Linked DNA regions of Homo sapiens: regions 1 and 3 are each linked to region 2. Evidence: fine-mapped expression QTL. A gene starts in region 2. Each other region holds a variant in brackets. All regions are shown on one strand. Distances are from middle to middle. Region 1 has its middle 34 kb from the start of OR2B11. Region 2 holds the start of OR2C3 (olfactory receptor family 2 subfamily C member 3). Region 3 has its middle 21 kb from the start of OR2B11.

Evidence for each region. PIP is the estimated chance that this variant, and not a neighbour inherited with it, causes the effect.
Region 1: its variant is fine-mapped to the expression of OR2C3 in monocytes (TOPMed, PIP above 0.99).
Region 3: its variant is fine-mapped to the expression of OR2C3 in blood mononuclear cells (TOPMed, PIP above 0.99).

What each region holds. Positions count from the first base shown.
Region 1 is chr1:247,488,095-247,496,473 of GRCh38, reverse strand. It overlaps the pseudogene OR2W5P. Among named protein-coding and RNA genes, the nearest start is that of OR2B11, 34 kb to the right of the region's middle. The variant A/G (reference allele first, on the strand shown) is at 4,783.
Region 2 is chr1:247,532,850-247,541,228 of GRCh38, reverse strand. It overlaps OR2C3 (olfactory receptor family 2 subfamily C member 3), which reads left to right and starts at 4,789. Exons shown (of 3, transcript NM_198074.6): 1 at 4,789-5,061; 2 at 7,351-7,722. It also overlaps a transcript of GCSAML not described here.
Region 3 is chr1:247,475,292-247,483,670 of GRCh38, reverse strand. No RefSeq gene overlaps it. Among named protein-coding and RNA genes, the nearest start is that of OR2B11, 21 kb to the right of the region's middle. The variant G/A (reference allele first, on the strand shown) is at 5,070.

The DNA of each region.
Region 1 (8,379 bases), 45 kb after region 2:
AGTCTGCAGCCACCCCCCAACCTGCTCTTTCTACATCCAGAAAAGCTAATCACATACCAGAGATTAAGTCGTGTTTATTCTCTCTTACTCATTTCTCACTTCCAGTCAAATCCTAAATCCTGAAAATTCTATTCCCTAACATCTCCAAAATCCAATTCCTATTCTTCACTCACACTCTAGTTTTCTTAATTAAATTGTTACAACTTCTCTCTTGAGTTAATTAAAATGCTTTTCTTCTTCCCTTTCTTGAGATATATTTTACATTGCAGCAAATGATCTCCCTAAAATACACCCTACTTATGCCACTCTCTTTCCTAAATGCATTCATTTTCTCTCCATGTTAGGAAAAATGAAATCCAAGTTCCTCAACTTGGTATTTTGTTAGAAGAGTGTGCCCAACAACCTTGTTCTTGCCTATGCCTCCATTATTTAACCATGGCAATTCCCCATAAGAACCCTACAAACAAACATGTCAAACTACCAAACTCAAAATACCTTTCGTCTTCTCTTTGACCAGCACAGTCTTTTTATTTTTTACGTATAGCATTTCCTTCCCATTCTTTTCCTTTCTAACTTATTCACTCTTTAAGACTCAAAACAGACTTCATCTCCTATAGAAACACCCAAACTTCAATGATCAAGTACCACCTCATTCATTCCACGGCACATTTTCAGCATCAGGTTGCATTTTTTCTTTAAGTCTTTCATATATGTATCTCCATTGTCCTAGCATAGTATACTTGCTGACAGAAGAAGAAAAAAAGGAAGGAAGGAAAGGAAGGAAGGAAGGAATCCACCCTTTGCCTACCCAGTTCAGGGGATTCTCCCTGCCTCAGCCTCCCAAGTAGCTGGGATTACAGGTGCCCACCACCATGACCGGCTGATTTTTGTATTTTTAATAGAAATGGGGTTTCACCATGTTGGTCAGCCTGGTCTCAAACTTCTGACCTCAAGTGATCAGCCTCCCAAAGTGCTGGGATTACAGGCATGAGCCACCGCACCCAGCCAGATTTAACATCATTTACAATCAATCTTACTCTACCTGCCTTCCATACACAAACTTTTTTTCAGACAGAAATTCTTTTTTTCAGGTACCATTATTGTCTTTCTGTACTTCCCAAATACTTTTTAAAGAGCATCAGAATTTCACAATTTTATGTTCTAGTTCAATTCTCTGGTCAAATATTTTCTTACTATTCCATCTCTACCTTACTGTTTGTTATATCATTACTTTGTCCAATTTTATTATAGTAGTATTTTATTCTATTTTCTTTCCAATTGATGAGAATTTGGGGGGAGGACCTTTGAGTCAGTTTCTTAAGTCCCTACAGAGAAATCAGATTAACCAAGTTTATCAAACTGTGAAATAAGTAATTCAAATTTCAGCTGTTGGAAATTTAAATTATTTTGAGCCTTAAGAGGAGTGTGACTATGTGGCCTGAGTCATGTAGCATACAGCTGCAACTTCTGCTTTTTCCTGTAAATGATTAGGAAAGACTAAATCGTACCAGAGATAAGATTCCTTGAGACCATTACCCCTTCTTGTGGAGTGTTCATGTTAAACAATTTTCCTTGGCACGTAGCCAGCTGTACCTAATCAAATCACTATAATGTATTTACTGACCTTATATGAGAACTACTGTAACTCTGCTAAATTTCTCTGCTTCTGCCTAAATCAGTAAACTTTAACTTTTCCACTTTGGAGTACTGACTCCATTTCTTGGGAGTCTGTGTTATTCAGGTGGCTAATTCTCAAGCTTTGCCCTCAAATAAACTCCACATTTAATCATATTTTCTGAATCTTATTATTTTAAAGTTGACAAAACTAAAGCACACAAGTCAATGGTCAATTTGTAGATGGGTTGATTGATTCCTCTCCCCATACCCTGAAACTCCAACTCATCACTAACTGTATCCAAGATAAAGGTGTTATTGGATGAAAACGTCCACTGTTGCAGTGTCAGTGCTAGGACAAATGACAGGGGTCCGAGTGGTAGTGTACCCTAGGAACTGTGAGTGGACAGGCCCCTATAGCCATGTCAATTTCTTTGATTTCCTTACAATTTCCAGGGTATTATATGCATTTAATGAATACTCCTTAACTTGATCCGTTGAAAAATTTATCACAGAAATAGCATTAATATAAAGAAAAAAACACGTGGGAAATGATGTTCACAGCTGTGGCCAGTACCCTCCTGCACATCAGCTGAAAATATACTCATTAGATGTATGGGGGTGCTTTCCTGGCAGTTTTTATGCCACAAAAACTCAACCAGGAGAATTGGAGTAAAGAAAAGGACTGGTATTTGGATTAACAGACAAATTTTTTTAATCTTTTATCTCTAGGATAATGCCCTTGGATGATTTTAAAAGAAAAACTTTAAAAGAAAAGATTTTAAAAGAAAAACTTAAATTTTTTATCAATAAAAAATAGCATTTGGATACTAAACAGTCCTAAAGTCCAAATTTAACCACATAGGACCTAAATGTGTAAGCAGTTAATGGAATGAAAAACTCCCTGGGAAATGTTTGACAAATAATGAATGCCATCTTAGGTATTCACTTGCCTTGTAATTTAAGCAACTCCCTTAGCCTCCCTGTGTTTTAGTCACATTATTTGCAAATAGGGTAAAGAATATCTATTTTTCACATGTCCTATGATCATCTTTATTATACAGGAAGACGACTGGAGCAATGGGTTTTGAAATATTTTATGCAATAGTTCCAAAACACCTGGTTAAACAACTTTGAAATTTTTTTCCATTTCTGTCTGGGTATTTTTGTTATCTCATAGATTTAGCCTCTGTGATAGTCTATGGACACGCTCTGCCCCATAATTCAAAAAGCCTGAACTGGTATTATCTACAAATAATGTGAAATCCGCACACTTACCCTGAATCACCACCTCACCCCCCAACCCACATTTCTATTAGGGTGCAAAAGTAGGCAGCAAAGTTCTCTGAGAGTTTGTGAGGGATCCTATCTACCTAATCTGAAAGAAGCAAGGAAAGGGTGTTTTCTACACCTGGAAGAGAACATTTTGCATCTTGCAGATAATAAATGGAAAAATACTGAAGCAGAATTTTACTAAAAACAAGATCTAAATAACAATTGCATAAGACCTACAAAAGAATAGATTGCCCAATGCCTGTGGTACATGAAAAAAAAAGTATTACTGAGAGACCACCCACCTCATATTTAACATACTTTGTCTTGCTTAATCTCTACTACAACCCTCTAAGGTGAAGAGTATGACCTCCATAATACAGATGAAAAAGGCTAGGCTTCGAAAGCTAACTGGTGAGAAGATAAATCAGTTCCAAGTCCAGATATGGATGATACTGTCTTCCCCATGCCTGGTGCACAGGATCATTCATACCCAGTGAAGGCAGCCAGGGATTCAGAATGCTACAGGAAGAGTCCTGGGTAATGTGAGGAGCTGGATTTTTATTATCTCTAAAACAATGATTTCAAAATCTATCATCAGTAACACCTAGGGAGCTTTTTAAAGACAGAGATGCCTAGACCCACACCTGGCATTGTAGATTCAGGAAATTTGGAGAGTTCTTGGAAATTTGTGCCTTAAGCGTTCTGATGCACGATCAAGTTTTGGAAACACTGCTTTTAGTAATGTCCAATTCCAATATGCACTGATTTTATAAGATTGGTCATCAGAGTTATTTGTGGAGGTTGGGGGTGGTAATTAATTTGAGTATAGGACAGCTCTCTTTGAAGTAGAATATTTACAGCTGTTTAATCTGCTAAGGAGAACAAATTCATTCTATCTGGATGTGTATCATTTGCTCTGTTCTTCCCAAAGGCTTGCATTCCTGACTAGAGTCAGCTCTTTTGTAGGTACTTTGGCTATGCGAAAAGGTCAAGGAGAAGATGCAAATAACTCTGAGCAAATTCTGCTTTTTCAAAAAGCAACTCAAAGGACATTCCCCACTCATACAGAACCAACCTGTATCCAGGACAGGGCACTATAACTTTACTGATGTTGACCCCTCTCTCTTTGAAAAACTGCCACAGAAGCAAATAAAAGGGCTTGAAGAAAAGGCCACTCATGTTGTCTCAATTTTTATTTGACATCCATGACATAATCTGCAGACTGCCCAGTGCCTTTGGGTGATTGAATTAGTTTTGTAAGTCCCCAGCAGTTGTGGATAAATCAAAAAGACAAGGAAAGTGCAAGATACAGCAGAGATATCCTGAAGCAGGCAACTTCAAACAGAAGGAAACCACTTCACATCCAGAGGGCAGAGGACGGGGTCAAACTCGAAAGCATTTTCCCACCCGCGTTCACTCTACTCCTTGAATATTAGTTCTCCACATGGCCACAGACACATCTAAGAGAGTAACTCCAGCAAACTGTCTACATTACTAGAGTGTTCCCCTCGTTGAGGCTCCCCAGCCCCTTTCTCCCACCCCAGAAGTTTCTTCATGGTCCCCTTCACATCCTTGTTCCTCAAAGTGTAGATGAGGGGGTTGATGCTGGGAATGACGATGGTGTAGAAGAGAGTCAGGAACTTCCCCTGATCTTGGGAGTAGCTGTTGGCCGGCTTCAGGTACACGTAGATGATGGTTCCGTAGAAGAGAGAGACCACTGTGAGGTGAGAAGAGCAGGTGTGGAAGGCTTTCTTTCGCCCTGCTGCTGACTTCATCCTCAGCACCGCGGCTGCAATCACGCCATAGGAGATGAGGATGAGGGAGAGCGGCACCAGGAGGAGAGCCACCCCCAGGGCAAAGGTGAATCGCTTCTACCAGCATGGTTTCCTCACA[A/G]GACATGGCAATAAGAGCAGGCATCTCACACAGGAAGTGGTCCACCCTGCGACGTCCACACCGGGAGAGCTGCATCGTCTGAGGACACATGATGAAGGAGTTTAGGAAGCCACAGCACCAGGCCACAGTCACCAGCTGCAGGCAGAGATGTGGGCGCATGACTGCCATGTAGTGCAGGGACCGGCAGACGGCCACATAGCGGTCATGGGACATGACAACCAGGAGGACGCACTCGGTGGAGCCCAGCATCATGTAGATGTAGAGTTGGGCCACACAGCCGTGGTAGGTGATGGTCTTCTCTGGACCCCCCAGGTTCCACAGCAGCTGAGGGGCAATGCTTGCTGTAAAGCAGAGATCTAAGAAAGACAGATTCCCAAGAAAGAAGTACATGGGTGTGTGGAGCCTGACATCCATGACCAGCAAGAGGATGATGGCAGTGTTGCCCACCAGGGTCAGGATGCAGAAGATCAAGATAACAGCAAAGAGAATTTTCTCCAGTCCAGGCCGATCAGAAGAGCCCACCAGGATGAATGCCTGTAGGTAACTGGCATTGTCCTTTCCCATAATCCACCAGCTATTACAGAGAAACAACCAAAGAATTAGATAAGGGGGCACATGCAGATGATCTGGCACTCTCCAATTTCCATTTACAGGTCTGTGAAGTTAAGAGAGCCATTTGCCCTTTCTTTGCTTTTTTAGAATAGACTTATTGAAACCTGTTACATGCAAAGTCGTGTGCCTGATGCCCCAGGAAGACGGGATGAATTGACTCTGGAGCTTCCCTCCTTGGTGAATAATGTGTATGAATAATGACAAAGAAGGGAGAAAGAGAAAGTTCTCTAAAAGAAGATGCGTTAAAAGGCTGAGTATTATGCAGATCACTCCCAAGTGATCAGGAGGGCCTGTGTAGAACAGTTTGTATTAAGGGAGACTGCTGAGTCTGAGAGTTGTTTTTGGTTGTTGCAAATAATAAGTAAGAATTTGACATGTGGCAGATTGAGCTAAATATGTTTCACAAAGAGGAGGTAGTATATACAAAGTCATGAAGGACCACATTTATGGGTGATGCTTAAGGAAGCCATGAATGTACGTACCAGGCAACTCCTTAATGGCATGTAATTTTATTAAGATGAAACACAGTGATTTTTGACCCTACAAGAAAGGACTGTGATGATAGGTTTAATTCTGCCTCTGTAAAACACAGGTCTGCAAATGTATGGCCTGCTATTCAGTTCATCTCTCTCTAACTTGGCTTTTCCTTGTGCAACATGGGAAAGAGGCTAGATCTTCTCTAAGTCCCCACTCAGACCTCACATGTCTATGTAACTGGTGACACTGAGTATATACCCTGAGCACTTTCAGCTATTGAGGATTTCCACAGTCTAAGCCAAGGGCTTTGATGGGGACTCTGCCTTATACAGCCAATATCCACCCAGGCTTGTATCTGCTATGATAATAGCAAACGGCATCTGGGCAACACACAAGAAGGAAGCTGTGGGAATGAGGGCACAGAAACACATTGAAGGACATGTGTCTATGCAGCCGCTGTCACCACCTGTCCATCCTGACAACTGACATGCTATGAGCTGTATCCTGTTGGAGCTGCAATTGGGAATTCTGTAGTTCCCATCCATTGGTCCAGGCACCGGACCCTCTGCAAAGCCCTATGAAAGGGTAAAAGAGGCAGGGTCTATCAGAAGTAGCCAGCCAAGTGTCAAAGAATGGAAGACTTTCAGAGGCTTCCTGAGTACTCACAAAGGAGACTTTCACAGACACACATTTTACAGGTGTTGGTTATTATGAACAACTTGTACTTCTGTATCCTCAGACCTATCATAAGTTTTCTCCCAGGTTCAGGAGACCTCAAGAGTGGCAATGACAAGCTACACAAATTGCTCAGCAACTTTATCACTTTGGGTGATAAAGTTGTGATCACTTTGGGTGATCTCAGCAAAGTTTATCACTTAGGGTCTGACTCCTTAACCAAAACTGCAAATTTACCTTGTAGTCATCTGTTCAAAACTACTTTTTTTCACAATGCTTTATTCTTTCAATCCAAAATGTCCCACTGCTCACCCTTATGACAAATATGCAGAGGCTCTTCTCTGTTTCACCTAACAGGTATTCAACTATAAATTAATGCATCCTGTCTTCTCACATTTCTTAGCTCTTTAGTTCAGAACCATGAAATTGCAAGGAATACAGCTCTTAGAAATGCCCAAATACCTTTAATAGTTTAGTTGACACATAATACTATAAATGCTTACTAATTTTGAAAACTTAGACGCCAAGGTCTGAATTGGGTTGATTCTCTGGCTGAAGGTTATGCCCAAAACTGTACCAACCCATATAGAGGAGAATCCACCAAATGGTTCTCTGTGCTTACTGAAAAGGATTTAACAATGCCAAGCAATAGAGCTATTTTTGCCTGGCTTAGGTATAGAGCACAACATAAACAATCACAACCCTTTCACATTAGCGTACATTAGACTTTTACAGAGCTTTCACACTCTAGTTTCAGACCATCATCACAGCAGCCCTGCAAAGTGGACAGGCCAGGCATTAGAATCTCCATGTTAGAGATGATCAACCTCAATAATAGAGAAGAAGAAAGAATAGCCAATGCTTGCACTACAGCTTCATATCAGAGCAAGGTTTATAGTGCCAGCCCTATGCATTAACCCAAGTTTCCATTCATTCTGCCTTCCTCCCTGTTCCTATTTCTCACCCACTTAAAGCTGTAGTTGTTTAAAGTTGATCACTCATTACAGCACTCCCATTAACCTACACATTACAATCCTAACAATAAAATCCATCATCATGAGCAGTTTCCAGAGAGAAGCTTGTGATCACTCTCAAAATCGCCAGAGATTTGCAATGCTTGATTTGTGCGAAAACAGAATTACACGGTTCTCTGTTCAAATCAGCTATCATTTTATCAAGAGACTAAAAAGATTGGTTTATTGTGTGTGCATGTAGGCTCAGAAGAGGCCCTAGGATTGGCTCAGCTAGCAATGGACAAATGGATAATGGATAATCACATAATCACTCCTAATCTACTTTAGATACACTTTGCTAGAATTTGGTGCATTTGATTGTTTCCGAGTTGGATACAATGTCTCTTTTCCAAAATGGAGTTCCAAATTGCGAGTTGGCATTGAGAAACCCGTTACTCTGGTGTTCTAACAGATATAAACTCTAATCAAAACTATTACAAGATAACTCTATATCTGCATACAGACGACTGAAGATACAGATATAAATCTCATTGCCACGACAAAGCTTGTATTAAAATCTCACCCTTGTTCTTCCCAGAAAGTAGAAGACCTATGATTCTGTCAACCCTCCTTACTTCAATTCCGGAGACCAACCAGGAGTTTTCTCATGGATAAGGCAGCTAATTCTTGTCCCTTTTAGTTTCTGGATCTTCCAGAGGAAATTACACTGAAAACCCTGAAAGGAGATTGAGCACAAAAATAATGTCTGTCCCATTTAAGTGTTAATAAGCCTTTAAGTAGCAGAGCTTGGAAGAGAAATGATGAACTGTGGGCAGGAATGACAAGCTAAGTGAGTGGTGTGGCATAGTGCCACATTTCA
Region 2 (8,379 bases):
AGGCATTTCCTTGTTGTTTTAATAGCTTCAATAGGAAAAAAAAAATTGAAAAAGCTTTTGCAAGAAAATAGTCACAGGATTTATAATTTAAACCAGCATAGGTTTAGACAAAACTATGACCAAATGGGTAAAGAAATGTCTGGATGAAAAAATAAAAGGCTTGAGTAGTGTAACTGTCACTTAAAAGAATATTTGTGTCATTTTTGAAAAAAATTCTTTTCAGCAGTTTCTTTTATTTTTAATACTCAGTAACTCAATGCCTTCTAAACAGAAATAGAGAACATATAAAAATGAGGATATGCAAGACATTACAACTTTCTCAAAGGCTCTTGAGTTTTTTTCCTTGCAGGTGGTTACAGTTTAGGAAATGCATGAATGACAAATATTTGGTAGTGGAGTGATTGTATTCTACGTGAATTGAAAAGAAAAGAGAAACTGCAAAACCCGGAGTGCAGTCTTATCCTTTCTAATCCTTCTGACGCGTTGCAGAAAGCTTGCTCGTTTGCAATAAAGTAAGGCCTCCCTCCCCCACTTGCTCTTGCATCCCCACAGTGGTCACTGCCCCCACCTTCAGTTCATACATCTGCTCACACATCAGCACTCCTTTATTAAGCTGCATCTTCGTGCCCATGCTCGGAAACTGGGGATGCAGAAGAAACAAAGTAGACACCACTGCCTTCATGAGCTTCTATTCTGACAGAACAAGACACATAAGTAAAAATAAGCATGTAGAATGCTTCAATACGTGCTGAACAGTGCTCCGGAGAGAAATAGAGCAGAAGTGGGAAAAGGATAAGTTTGACAATTCGAAGTAACACCATCAGGGAAAATGCCTCTGAGGTGAAGGTTAAGGACAGATGTGAGGCCTCAGCCAAGCACTTGTTAAGAGATGGAAACTGGCTGGGCGTGGTGGCTCAAGCCTATAATCCCAGCACTTTGGGAGGCTTAGGCAGGTGGATGATGAAGTCAGGAGTTCGAGACCAGCCTGGCCAACATGGTGAAACCCCATCTCTACTAAAAATACAAAAAATTACCCAGGCGTGGTAGCACATGCCTGTAATCCCGGGAGGCAGAGGTTGCAGTAAGCTGAGATTGGGCCACTGCACTTCAGCCCAGGCAACAGTGCGAGACTCTGTATCAAAAAGAGAGAGAGAGAGAGACTATTCTAGGCAGAGGAACCAGCAGAGCTAAAAGCAGCATGGCAAGTGAGAGCCTGGCGTTTTTGAGGAGCGAGGAAGCCTGTGAGGCTACAGTAGAGGGAGGAATGGGAGAAGTGGTGGGAAGTGGGATCAGAGAGGTAATGTGTGTGGAGGGGGAAGGCGCAGACAGTAGATACTCATGGATTATGAAACAACATGGGGTATTTACAGAGTCAGGTAGGAAGTCAGTGAAGCGTTTTCAAGTAAAATCGTTGTGATTTTAATACAAGTAATCTAGCTGAGACAGGGTGATTCGTTGTAAAAATGATTGTAATCTGGATATCTTTAAAAATAGAGTCAAAAGGATTTGCTGACAGATTATATGTGAGGAACAGAGGTCGTGGAAATGAGAGGGGTCAATGTTTGAGGCCGAGGGCTCCCCTGATTAGGCCCAGACTTAACTTGCCTCACTGGCTTTAGTCGCTTGCTTTTAGTCGGTCACTTGTTTCTAGTTTATTTTAAGATTTTCATAGCTAAAGGTCACGTAGCTAAGCAATATATAATAAAAAAAAATAAAACTGCCACCAGTTTCCTCAGAGATAACATCTCTCATGTATAGATCACTGTGGTAACGATTGCTTAAGTTCTTTTCAGGAACGAGGGTCAACTCTTGTCCAGTTCAAGCTAGCTGAAACCACTGGTCCCCAACTGGACCTGCGTGAATATCCAATGGGTGACCTTTAGATGTCACAGTGCCCAAAACTCCACCCTCAGATCATGTTAATGACACCATTTTGTGAACATGTGTGCTATGAAGAGCCATGAAGTTTGACTATATTTGAGCAGATTACTGATTACCTCATTTTTTCCTACCCCAATCACATTTTCCTACACCTTGGACCACCTCACTCCTCTATCCCATAAATATCCCTAAAATCCCATTTTCAGGGAGACTGATTTGAGACCTGTTCTCCTGCTTTCTCACTTGACTCCCTCATAAATAAACTCATTCTCTGCCACAAAACTCATCATTTCAGTGATTGGCATACGGTGCCATGGGTTTGGAACCACATGGACTCCAAGCTTCTGGACTAAGCAAATGGAAGAATAGAGTTCTCAGTTGTCATCAACTGAGAAGAGGAGACTGCAGCTGGAGGAGGTCAGGTGTACAACAGGGTTCGTTTTCTAAAGTGTTGCACTGGAGCTTTGCATTAGCCATCTGTATTAGGCAGGTCGAGATATCATAACAAAACACCACAAACTGGGTGGTGGCGGGCAACAGAAATGTATTTTCTCACAGTTCTGGAGACTGGAAGTCCAAGATCAAGGTACCCTCAGGGTTGGTTTCTGATGACGCTTCCCTTCCAGCTCGCAGCCATCTGCCTGCTTGCTGTGTCCTCATCTGGCCTTTCCTCTGTGCATGTGTGGAAAGAAAGAGACTGGGGTAGGCAGGGAGGGAAGATAGCTAGTATTTCTTACTCTTTTTATAAGTATTCCAATCTTATGACATTAGGCTGCCACTCTTATAAACTCATTTACTCATAATTATCCCCTTAAGGGCCTTATCTCCAAATATAGTCACATTGTGGGTTATGGTTTCAACATATGAATGGGTGTAGGGCACAATTCAGTTCATAACACCATCCAAATGAAGCTGTAGTATAGGCAGTTAGATATGTGAATCTGAAGTTTGGCATAGAGGTGCTGGCCAGGAATATAATTCAGAGAGTCTTCAGAATACGGTTCATATTTGGACCCATTAGACTAGATACTAGCTAACATACGTCTATGGGTTTATGTCACTTGATTTTTGACAAGGGTGTCAATAGAGAAAGTGTAATCCTTTCAACACATATATCCAGTTCAACACAACTGGATAGACACCTGCTAAAGAATGAAGTTGGACCCTACCTTACAGCATATACAAAACGTAACTCAAAATACATCAAAAGCCTAAATGAAAGAGCAAAAAATTATAAACTCTTAGAAGTAATCATAGAAGTACATTTTCATGACCTTGGAAGTCTCACTGTTTTGTTAAATATGACATGAAAACCAAAAACAACAACAAAAAAAATAGATAAATTAGTCTTCATCAAAATTAGAAACTTTTGTTCATCAAAAAGACATTGTCAAAAGAGTTAAAAGACAATATACAGAGCGAGAGAAAATATTTGCAAATCATGTATTTCATAAGGGTATAATATTCAGAGTATATAAGGAACACTTACAAAAAGACAAACAACCCAATCAAAAAATAGGCAAAAGACTTGAATAGACATTTTTCCAAAGAAGACAAGTAAGTGGCCAACAAGCACATTAAAAAATGCACAACATTATTAGCTGCTGGGAAACACAAATCAAAACCACAATGAGATGCCACTTTGTATCCACTACGATGGCCATAAAGGAAAAAAAAAAGATTGTAAAAAGTGGAAAATAACAAGTGCTGGTGATTATGTGGAGAAACTGGAACACAAATTGCTTGTAGAAATGTAAAGACTGTTTAGCTGCAGCAGAAAAGTTTGCTGGTTCAATAGTAAGTTGTTCATAGAATTTCCATAAGACCTAGCAATTCCACTCCCAGGTATACCCAGTAGAATCAGAAACGGAGTTCAAACAAAAACTTGTATGTGAATGTTCATAGCAGCTCTATTCACAATAGCCAAAAGGTAGAAACAACTCAAATGTTCATCAACAAACTAACCCAAATGTCTGTCAACAGATGAATAAACAAAAGGTGGTAGAGTCATAGAATGGAATATTATTCCTCTTTAAAAGAGAATGAAGTACTGATACACGCTACAACATAGATGAACCTTGAAAATATCATGTTAAATGAAAGAAACCAGACACAATAACATGTATGATATAAGTCCATTTATATGTAATATCCAAAATAGGCAAATCCATACATAGAGAAAGCAGATTAGTGGCTGGCAGGGCTAGGGAGAGCTGGCAAATGAAGACTGACTGCTCGATGGCTACAGGTTTTCCATTTGAGGTGATGAAAAAGTTCTGACGCTTGATAGAGGTGATGGTACAGTCTTGTGAAAGAACTTAATTCCACTGACTTGCACACTTAAAATAGTTACAATGATAAATTTATATGCTATCTGTATTTTACCAAAATAAAAATAAATTGATAAATTTAACTTATTAAGAAAAACATTATCTCATCACTGATGTATACACCAATAATAAAATCAATGGTTTTTTTAAAAAAAGAGTCTATAGCAGCATGTATCAAAATTAACAGAATGAGCAAATGTCTCAGACTATCTCCCTCACTACATGATAGAGAGACTTGATTCTTACGCTCCATAAGCAGTTTGGCAGTATAAAAACTAAAATAATATTCCAGTCATAAAAAAGAAACAATTCTGTGTGTGTAATACAATGAAGTTATAATTATCCAATAGGGAAAGAAATCCCAAAAGCTTTTTTCCCTCCACTTTTACTCCCCTGATATATGCCATCACCCTCAGGCTCCCTCCTGAAGGCTCCAGGGGTTACAATCAATGTCTTAGAATTATAAGGACTTTATGTCACACTTCACCCTTTAGGGTCTGCATATACTTTCTCATTCTGGAAACACCATGAGCCATTCTCACTCCTTTGATTATCAATTTTCTTACAAAGTATTTTAAGTGCTTTCTGCTAGTTCAATCCCATTGTGATTTAAATACTTAATAATGTGTCCTTTAGACATGAATTTGAACAGAATCTAACACGTCTGCTACCACCGACTTAGAGATTTCCACTATTTGCAGGGCTTTAAAATCCCCTGGCTAAACTCCTATTTTTTTAATGCCACACGCATTGAATTCATGAATGTTATCAGTCTTTTTAATAAAATATTGCCCATTTTACAACATTTCCACCCTGCATAAATAGAGATGATGCTGCTAGCTCACCATTAGTAAGTGACATTTTGAATTTTGTCGTTTGTTTGTTGTTGTTGTTGTTTATGGTATTTAAGATAAACTGGATCTCAGACTTTCTGGTAATTCCAGTTAAAATTGATAAGCACTGATCCGTTTAAATGATCTGATTTCCTCATGTGGCCTTTGATATTCTAGCAGCTTGCCTATGTTCTGCGATACAGTTTGTGACTGCCTAGTTAACTCAGACAAAATTTGAACTCAAGACGTTTCCTTAACTTTCAGTATGCTATCTTTGTCTTAATGGCACAGTGTTTGGGATAGGGTTGCATTTTGAAAAGTGAGTTTTTAATTGTGACAATTTTGGTGAATCTCTGCGGGTAAGCAAACCTCTTCCTTTACTGAAAACGCTATTTTTGTACTAAGAATCTGAGTATCTTGGGTATAGCTCCAGTATGACTAAGCAGCCCAGGGGCTTTGGATAAGTTACTAAACATTTCTAGAAGTAGATCAGATCACCACAAAGATCTCTTTTTCCTCAAAAATTCTACTAAACTATTACCTCATGAGTGACCTTGTGGTTCCTCTCAGCATCATTTACACATTTTCTGCATGTTATCAACTGTGAGTCAACAAAATTTTTATCTTTCCACAGATGGGATATACTTACACCCACGGGTCATAATGCAGTTGTCAGTTTAACCTGTTGTTTTTCAGCTCACCTGCGGTGACTCTATATACAGTACACCCACTTTGACTGTCATGACTCAGTTGTACCTAACTCTCCCAATCCCAGTTCATCTTTTCTCTCTCACATTCACATGATGAAAACATCCACGTTTTGACAGGTCTCAACTCTACCTCCCTGATTGGTTTGTTTGTTGTTGTTTTGAGACAGGGTCTTGCTCTGTTGCCCAGGCTGGAGTGCAGTAGCACAATCATGCCTCATTACAGCCTTGATCTCGTGGGTTGAAGCCATCCTCTAGCCTCAGCTTCCCAAGTAGCTGAGACTACAGGCACACACAGCCACACTCAGTCATTTTATTTTATTTTTTTGTAAAGACAATCTCTCACTATGTTGCCCAAGCTGGTCTCAAACTCCTGAGCTCAAGTGATTCCCCCCACTTCAGCCTCCCAAAGTGCTAGGAATACAGGCATGAGCCACCGCCCCCGGCTTGCCTCCCTGATTTGGAGGAGGTTGGAATGTATTCTCCAGGATGCCTTCTCCCATAGTATTAATGCTTCCCTGGCCTACTATATGCAGGCCAGATGATTGTCTCAGTATTCTGACACAGTAAGTCCACAATGGGACAGCTTCCACGTGTGAATTTTAACAAATGCCTAGAGTTTTCTGAGCCTCATTTCTATACATGCACAATGGAAAACCTACCTGTATTTTTAAAACTGAATGCACATGTCTGTTCATGTCTATTTTGTTTAATTGACTTCCAGTTACAGGGATAGGTAAATTCTACTCTCTGGGATTTTAAGAAGGCTGATAGTTAAGTTCACAGCTGCTCTGTTCCCCTAATCTGGGTGAATCTTAACTATAATAAATTGATTCTCCTTTTTAAAATACAGGCTAGAATTAATGTTTTGCAAAGAAGGGCCCCAAAGGTCTTCAGGGACATCGGAAGCACACTGAAATTGTCCAGTTTCTGACTTTATGCACTGCCCCTGCTAAATCGTGCTCGTTTTATTCCAACTGTACAAAAGCAGAGGATAGTCCAGACCCTTCTGCATGACTCTGGCAGTTCCAAGAGCTCTCTCCTGACAACACTACCGAAAGTTTATGCTGAGTCCTTCCACTCTGCCTTCATATTACTCTAGTCCTGCCTCTTCCACCCCACAGAACCTTTCTAGCAACCTGTTTCATGATGCACGTCCATGAATATTGATTAAGGGACTACTGTGTATCAGACACTGGGTTAGACACTGGGGACCCAGAGGTAAACAAAAGATAAAACTATGGCTCCATGGAATTTATGATCTAGTGGAGCGAGACGGGTAGCAAACAAAAGAAATAAGAGTAGTTTATTTGTTATAAGATTATCACCTTATATAAAAATAATTCAGGAAAGAGAGAGAAGGGAGTTGTGAGGGTTTTCAATATTATATAACACAGTCAGGGAGGGCCTCAGTCAGAAGGTGACTTTTCAAAAATGACCTGAAGAAGGTGAGGAAGGGGGTGTGTGGATGTCTTGGGGAGAAAGCACTGTAAGTATAGCAAACTGCAGCTGCAAGCCTTGTACCAAGACAATGAGGGTGTTGAGCAGCAGACTGATGTGATCATATGTCTTAATGTAATCCTGTGATTGCTTTCGTAGGAGTGAGGGAAAATTTCACCTTTGTCCTCTGAAATTTCACAGAAATCAACTGACAAATGGCAGATTCATAGGAGAAAAGACATACACATTTATTTGATCATAGTTTTACATAACAGAGGAGCCTTCAGATGAGAATCCAAAGATACAAGAGAAACTTCCCATTTTTATGCTTAGGTTCAAAGCCATATGGACAGCCATGTAGAAATATGATTGAACATGAAGGGCATGATCTAATACTGATGGACTGAGTGAAGAAGCCCAGCAAGACCCATCGTGAGATTCTTTTTGGCCTCTCTGAGCAGTGTTCCTTTTTTCTTGGTATGCAATAAGACCTCTCTGGAATGGAGGTCTTATGATCTACAATCCAGTAAGGTAGGTCAGATAATTTATTTATGGCTAGTTTTAACACAGAAAGGTGGAGGGAAAGTTAGAGTAACATTTTTAGGTTTTATGGCTGGCTTTGAGGAAAAGGGGCTCTGGTTTCTATGTGTCACCTTGGGGAAGAGGGATTCTAATTTCTATGGCTAACTGCGGGGAAGAATGAGGGGCCACGGACAAGAAGGCAGGAGAAAGAGAAACTTTTGCTTCTGAAGCCTTCATGGTGGGGTATCATTTTCTGAGCCCCAACACTTTTTTGAGAGTACTTGGAAGGGGAGCAAAGGAGAAGCAGAGAGATGAGTTAGAGTATTAGATCAAAATTCAGATGATAAATGATGGCAAGATGGGCCAGAGTGGCAGGAGCAGGGGTGGTGAGAAGGGATAAAAAACTGGATATAGTTAACGACAGCAAAAACTTGCAGATGATTGTGGAATTTGAGAGGGCACAATTTTAATGCCTGTACAGTGGTTCATCACATGAATGACCACCCTCTACCTGACTAACCCTTTATTGCTAAACATTTAGGTTGCATATAGATGTTGTTACTATAATATTTCCATTTTAAAAAAGCAGTGCTAAGGATTTTGCATGAATGTCCATTTTCCCCAGACAGTGAACACCCCCCACCCAGTCTTTTATTATACAGTCCA
Region 3 (8,379 bases), 58 kb after region 2:
TCTTACCTTTGTAATATCACTCCTCCTCTGTTCTCCTAAGCCTATCTGCCAACTGCTCCTCCATTCTTTTTTCATTCACTATTTTAGGTATTCCAGAAGAAAATGGGTAAAGAAATAGAGCTAGTAAGTGTTTGAAGGCATTTATTTTTTAACATTTTCATTACAGTGTATCATGCATAGAGAAATGTGCTTAGATCAAAAAGTGAGCACAACCATCTAACCACCATTCAGGTTAAAAAAAAAAGAAAACAACACCCAAAGTCCCCTCATAACCTTTCTCCGTCATCCTACTCAAACCCTATCTGCTCAATAACACTATAGATTAGTTTTCCTTTCTGTTGAAATTTACATAAGTGAAAGCAAATGGCAGGTTTATTTTTATTTCTGGATTATTCTGTTCAATGCTGCTCTTACTCATTTCATTGTGGATAATATCCATGATACGAATACATCCCACTTTATTTGTTCATTTTACTGTGCACAGATATTGGATCATTTTCTGTTTTGGGCTGATACAAATAAGACTGCTGTGAGCATTATTGTAGGGTTTTTTTTTGTGCAGACAGGCACTCATACCTGTTAAATGTCTGTCCAGAAGTAAAATCATGACCTTAGGAAATGCACATGTTCACATTTAATGAAAAAAAAAATGCCCAATAGTTTTCTAAAATGTCATAACAATTATACTCCCACTAATAGTGAATGGCGTTCTTGGCTCCATTTCTCCATCATGTGGTATGGTCAAGTTTTAAATTTCAGGCCTCAGGCATGTTAGTAATCCTTCTATGTGTTTTCATTTGCAATTCACTGACTAATAATAAGTTGGGAATCTTCTCATAAATTCATTGACTATTTAGATAGCCTCTTTTAAAAAATGTCTTTTTAAGTAGCCTGTTTTTCTATTGGATTCTTACCTTTTTTCCTATCTATTTATACAAATTTTTCATGTGGCTTGGCTATGAAACCTTTATCAGTTATGTGTAATACAAATATCTTTTTTTTCAAATCATGGGCTTGCTTTTCCCTGCTCTTACTCTTGTCTTTTGATACAGTACTTAATTTTAACGCAGTCCTATTTACTGATGGTTTCCTTTATAAATACTGCTTTTGGTGTTTTGTTTAACAAATTATTCTGTATCTTTTCTAGCTTCATATTGTCTCTTAAAAACATGGCTTCTAGCTTACTGGGTCCTCACTTGGTATGCCTGCCAGGGTTAGGGCTGGGGGATAGCTAGGGGCTCAGCCAGTGTGTTTCCAAGAACAGAAAGAACATGAGGGAGCATCTGAAGGGTGTTAGCCAACATGACCAGTGCCAAAGACATGGCACAGGTTGCCAAAGATAAGTTATATACTGACAGATTGAGAAAATAAGTAAATATATTGAGGTTACTGGAGGCCTAGTTTTTCACTATTGGAAAGGGAGATTCCATATAAGGAAAGAGGAAGACTACAATACATCTTATGGTATTGAATTTTAATTGGAAATATCAGTATATATTCATGATTTTAAAATACACACAGAGGGCTTGGTGCGGTGGTGGACACCTGTAATCCCAGCATTTTGGGAGGCCGAGGCGGGCGGATCACCTGGAGTCAGAAGTTTGAGACCAGCCTGGCCAACATGCTGAAACCCCGTCTGTACTAAAAATACAAAAATTAGCCGGGCATGGTGGCAGGCGCCTGTAATCCCAGCTACTTGGGAGGCTGAGGCAGGAGAATCGCTTGAACCCAGGAGTTGGAGGTTGCAGTGAGCTGAGATCATGCCATTGCACTCCAGCCTGGGGTACAAGAGCGAGACTTCGTCTCAAAAAAAAAAAAAAAATACACATGGAGATTTATGTAGATATAGAAGTGTGTGTGTGTGTGTGTGTGTGTGTGTGTGTGTGTTCATGCATGCATATTTCCTAGCTCTTAGCTGAGAACACCTAAAAACGTTAACACTGCAGTAGCACTGAGCATTCCCAACACCCATTATTTAGTTACTAAATCCCTTCTCCACTAAAAAGAAGTTCTTGGGAGAAACAGTTGTGGATTCAGGCCTGGAGCAAGAGGTGATGAAGGAAGAATAACAGGTCCATCATCTGGACACAGGAACCAGATTGAACAAGTTCTGCTAATAAAATATTGGAAAATTTTTGAGTCTCAAAATAAATAGTGTAAGAGATTATAACTCATTTATACTATACTCTTGTTTTTCTCATAACTCCTCCCATTGTATGAAATTATCTTTTGAACCTACTTGTTTGCTTACTAGTTAAAGTCTCCCCAACCCAGGATATAAACTAAGTGAGAACAGGCACCTCACCCATCACCTTTTCCATTATATCATCCTTACCTAGAGTAGAGTTGCAGATAAATAAATAGTTGACAGATGATGATGATGATGATACATAGATGATTGATAGATAATAGATAGATGATATATAGATAGATAGATAGGAGATAGGTAGTAGATGGTAGATGGTAGATGGATGGAGAGATGGAAAGAGAGAATGGCTGAATGAATGAACAAACAGAACTCCCTGTGATAATTAGGTGGAAAACTATAGGGAATATTGATTTACTCTAATTGCCCATTGTGCATACCAAAATCTTCACTTATATTAATATAGAGTTTATATGGTATAAGTCGGTGCATAGCAATATCTAGAGGAACTCATTTACATACAACTTAGGAAGCAATCACTTCTCAGTAAAAGAGCCAGCCTCCTACTTGATTAGAGAAAACAGAATTCATAAGACAGAGAATTCCTCCATTCCCATTCTAACTCTGCAGGCTCTCTGCAGCCTCGGTTGCTATGCTCCTTTGCCCTGTCTCAGTGGAAAGAGGGGCTCTACTCCTGTCGAAGTCCATGCTATGTGCTATGGGCTTCCCTCCTCTCACATGCCTGGGACTCCCTTGTATGGGACATTCCTTCTTGTTGCTATTTCATATCCATCATCCCTTCCTACTGGTATTAGCAATCTCTTAAAAAAAAAAAAAACCCTTCCTTTCAAATATCAGCATAAATTTACTGAAACTAAAATAATGTTGAGTTGCCAAAAAACATTACAAATCATTGAGAATATAAAACTAGTACTAATATATGTGGGGAGATTAGCATAAAATGAGGATGGAGAACACATTAATTCAATAAATGATGTTTTTAAAATGGCAAAAGTCACATGAAATAAAACATCATTTTACACTTAAAACTACAACAAAACTTAAATGTGTCAGTGCTTTAAAGGCAGAAAAATAAATCCAGAGTGTCACCATAAGAAAGATATCTATTCTATAAGCAAACATTACAGCATCAGCATCCCTAAGATGCTAAGAGTTAGCATCCCTAAGATGCTACATATCATGATGATGCTATCATGATGATGCTACATATCAAGATGATGCTATGTATCATCTTAGCATCCCTAAGATGCTAAGAGTTCTTACATAAAAACATGTAAAAATGCACCTTCTAATGGGTTGAATTGTGTCTCCCTCAATTTTTTATATTGAAAGCCTAACCTCCAGGAACACAGAATGTGACTATATTTGAAGATAGGGTCTTTAAAGAAGAAATTAAGTCACAATGAGGCTATTAGGGAGGGCTCTAAACCCTAAAATTCACCAATATGACTGGTGTTCTTATAAGAAGAGATTGGGAGAAAATGGGAAGTCTTCAGTAAGGAAACAGATTACGTGGTCCCAGCCGTTGCTCCCCAACAAGAACAATGATTTAACTACTCCCAGATAAAAATAACTCTGGGAGAGCTCCAGGGTACAAATAGCAAGGTTCAGCAGCCCATTGAAGCAGGAAAACTGAGGATGGCCGTATAGAAAGCACTGGAAGCATTGGACCTGTGTTAACCTATTCCCCAGCCCAGCACAGCTCAGGGCCAACAGGGATCTCCTTGGCTGCAACCTCCCTCCAAAGGGAAAAAGTGAGGCAGGAGGACATCAGCAGGCCTTGGTTCCGCCCGCACACATGCAACCTTCACGACAGAGCACCACCGCCATCTTTGCTGCCGCTAACACTAGCTAACACTATCGGATGGAGCGATCCAAAGTCCACAGTGCTGCATCCACCTGGGAGCAGGAGCTGCCGCTGAGCTCCGTCTAAACTGGAGCAGCTGCACCATGCTGTGGCTCAACCTGTGTTCTCATGTTCAAGGCAGTCGGATCACTTGAGGCCAGGAGTTTGAGACCAGCCTGGCCAACACAGTGAAAGCCCGTCACTAATAAAAGTACAAAAAGTAGCCCAGTACGGTGGTGCATGCCTGTAATCCCAGCTACTCGGGAGGAGGCTGAGGAAGGAGAATCGCATGAGCCTGGAAGGCGGAGGCTGCAGTGAGCTGAGATCATTCCACTGCACTCCAGCCTGGGCAACAGAGGGAGACTCTGTCTTCAAATAAAAAAAAGAGAAAAGAAAAAAGTAAATACATTATTCTTTTGTTGCAAGGATTCTGACTTCATTGTCAAAATGACATATTTTATTAACAGCTTTCTTTCTTTCCTTTTGTCTCCCTCAAGCAACCTCTTTGTAACCTCTGCTATTTTTCCCACCTTTTCTTGCTTAAAGTTGTCATAATTGATACTGCCATAGGAACCCAGACTCCTCTATGTATAAAATGTAAGTCTTCTGCAATCTCTACAACCAACCATCTCGACTTGAACCACAGAATGCCAAAAAGGTGGTAGAGACCTGCAGGCCGAGGAACGGAACGGCCTCTTTTGTGAATCAAATCAGGTGAGTATAAAATAAGATTGGTGGAGAGTTTTTAGATGTGGGAGTGAAATAACTCAGAACCAGAAAGTCAAATACCACATGTGCTCACTTGTAAGTGGAGCTAAATAATGTGTACACATGGAGGAAGAGTGTGAAATAATAGTGAATGGCCGGGTGCGGTGGCTCACGCCTGTAATCCCAGCACTTTGGAAGGCCGAGGTGGGCCGATCACGAGGTCAGGAGTTCAAGACCAGCCTGGCCAACATGGTGAAACCCCGTCTTTACTAAAAATACAAAAATTAGCCGGGCTTGGTGGTGAGCGCCTGTAATCCCAGCTACTCGGGAGGCTGAGGCAGGAGAACC[G/A]CTTGAACCCAGAATGCAGAGGTTGCGGTGAGCCAGGATCAGGCCACTGCACTCCAGTCTGGGGGACAGGAGTGAAACTCCGTCTCAATAAATAAATAAATAAAATAATAGACAGTGAAGCCTCAGAAGGGTGAAACAGGGATAAGGGATGAGAAATTACTTAATGGGTACAATGTACACTATTTGCACGATGGTTACAGCCAACACCTAGACTTTACCACTATGCAATATATCCATGTAACAAAACTGCATTTGTATCCCTTACATTTATACAAATAAAAAACATGTATTTGTGACAGTTGTCTCTCCAAGCTGGGAGTGCATAAGCTCATCACCAGCTCCCCCATGGTGGGGAAAAGTCATTTTAGCCAATAACTTGTTCATAAAGTAAAACTAAGCAGTTTCGTCCTCTCTGAAGTTCTCTGAATGGTGGTGATAATAGTTAACATTGGAAGACTGGAACAAAATAATGGTTTTCATTGTAGAAAAAGTACAGTTCAAGAAAAACTGTACTGTGAAATACAGTATTTCATAAGGATACCATAAAGTTGCCCCCATGGCAAGAAAATAAAAATCTATCCATCCAAATAACTTCTCAATTTTCTACTGAAGTGATGTGTTTAATGTTTAAAGTATACTGCTTCACATGTAATTTTTTTCAAAAAACCTGTTTATTTCAGCCAATTCAAGAAAATGTCAGTAAAACTGATTATTTGACATTATGTTGGTAGATTTTTTAAACTTATAAAATATTTTGGATTTATAGATACATAGACAAAATAAGATAACAATGGACAGACTAACCACCACTCAGCTTTATAAAATTTTAACATCTGCATTACATGTTCCAGGTCTTTTATGAAATAAAACATAGGTATATTCAAAGATCCTGAGAACATATTATTTCCCTCTTTCCACAGAGGTAAAACAAATTTTATGTTTATCATTTTCAAACATATATTCAAATTCATTTTAATTCATACATGTATTCAAAAATAATAAAGTATTTTTGCACACTTTAAAACTTTACATAAATGGTATAATACTGATGTTATCATTCTGAACTTTTTTTGTTCTCTCAACATTTATGGGTATTTTTGGTTTTTTTAAACTTTTATTTTAGGTTCAGTGATACATGTGCAGCTTTGTTATACAGGTAAATTGCACATCACAGGGGTTTGGTGTACAGATTATTTTGTCATCCAGGTACTAAGTATAGTGCCTGATAGGTAGTTTTTTGATCCTCACCCTCTTCCTACCCTTCACCCTCAGGTAGGCCCTGGTGATCATTGTTCCCTTCTTTGTGGCCACATGTACTCAAAGTTTAGCTTCCACTTACAAGTGAGAACATGCAGTATTTGGTTTTCTGTTCCTGTGTTGGTTTGCTTAAGATGATGACCTCCAGCTCCATCCATGTTATTGCAAAGGACATGATCTCATTCTTTTTGTGGCTACATAGTATTCCATTGTCTATATGTACCACATTTAAAAACTCCAGTCTACGGATGATGGGCTTTTAAATGGATTCCATGTCTTTGCTATTGTGAATAGTTGTTGGGTCAAATGGTAGTTCTGAGTTCTTTAAGAAATCACCAAACTGCTTTCCACAAGAGCTGAACTAATTTATATTCCCACCAGTCACGTATATGAGTTCCCTTTTCTCCACAACCTTGCCAGCATCTATTATTTTTTTGACATTTTAATAATAGCTATTTTGACTGGTGTGAGATGGTATCTCATTGTGGTTTTGATTTGCATTTTTCTGATGTGGAGCTTTTTTTTTATTTTTTGAGATAGGGTCTCACTCTGTCACCCAGGCTGGAGTGCAGTGGTTTGAGCACTGCAATCTCTGCCTCCACAGGCTCAGGTGATCCTCCCACCTCAGCTTCCTAAGTAGCCACCATGCCTGGATAATTTTTATATTTTTTGTAGGGATGGAATCTCACTGAGAGAAGAGAGAGACCCTCTCATACTGTTTTATATTGTTTTATACTCAGTACCTGTTTTAAGAAAAAACCAAGGAAGTGAAACCAAAGGCAGGCAGCCTGGCGCCAGGCACCAGACCCAAAATCAGACCCGAAACCAGGCCTGGGCCTGCCTGGCCTAAACCTAGTAGTTAAAATTCCACCCCTGACCTAGCAACTGATGTTATCTATAGATCCCAGACATTGTATGGAAGGACATTGTGAAACCTCCCATTCTGTTCTGTTTCACTCTGACCACCGGTGCATGCGGCCCCTGTCACATACCCCCTGCTTGCTCAAATCAGTCACGACACTTTCATGTAAAATCTTTAGTGTTGTGAGCCCTTAAAAGGGACAGAAATTGTGCACTCAGGGAGCTCAGATTTTAAGACAGTAGTTTACTGATGCTCCCAGCTGAATAAAGCCCTTCCTTCTACCACTCGGTGTCTGAGAGGTTTTGTCTGCAGCTCGTCCCGCTACATCACTGTGTTGCCCAGGCTGGTCTTGAACTTTTGGGCTCAAGTGATCCTCCCTCCTCAGCCTTCCAAAGTGCTAGGATTATAGGTGTGAGCCACTGTGCCCCATGTATGTTGAGCACTTTTTCATATGCTGAATGGTCACATGTATGTCTTCTTTTGAAAAGTGTCTGTTCATGTCTTTTGCCCACTTTTTAATGGGGTTGTTCTTTGTTTTTTGGGTTTGTTTGTTTTTTTTTGCTTGTAACTTTGTTTAAGGTCCTTATGGATTCTTCATATTAGACCTTTTGTCATATACATAGTTTGCAAATATTTTCTCACATTCTGTAGGCTGTCTGTTTACTCTGTTTATAGAGTCTTTTGCTATACAGAAGCTCTTACATTTAATTAGATCTCATTTGTCAATTTTGCTCTTATTGCAAAAAGAGCAATAATTGTTTGGTGTCTTTTGGCATCTTTGTCATGAAATTTTTGCCAGGGTTTATGTCCAGAATGGTATTTTCTGGGTTATCTTCCAGGGATTTTATAGTTTTAGGTTTTACATTTAAATCTTTAATCCATCTTGAGTTCATTTTTGTATATGGTGTAAGGAAGGGGTCCAGTTTCAATCTTCTGCATATGGCTAGCCAGTTATCCCAGCACCATTTATTGAATAGGGAATCGTTTCCCCATTGCTTGTTTTTGTCAGCATTGTCAAAGATCAGATGGTTGTAGGTTTGCAATGTTATTTCTGGGCTCTCTATTTTGTTCCTTTGGTTTCTTGTATCTGTTTTTGAACCAGTACCATGCTGTTTTGATGATTGTAGCCTTACAATATAGTTGTGATGCCTATGGCTTTGTTCTTTTTGTTTAGGATTACCTTTGCTATTC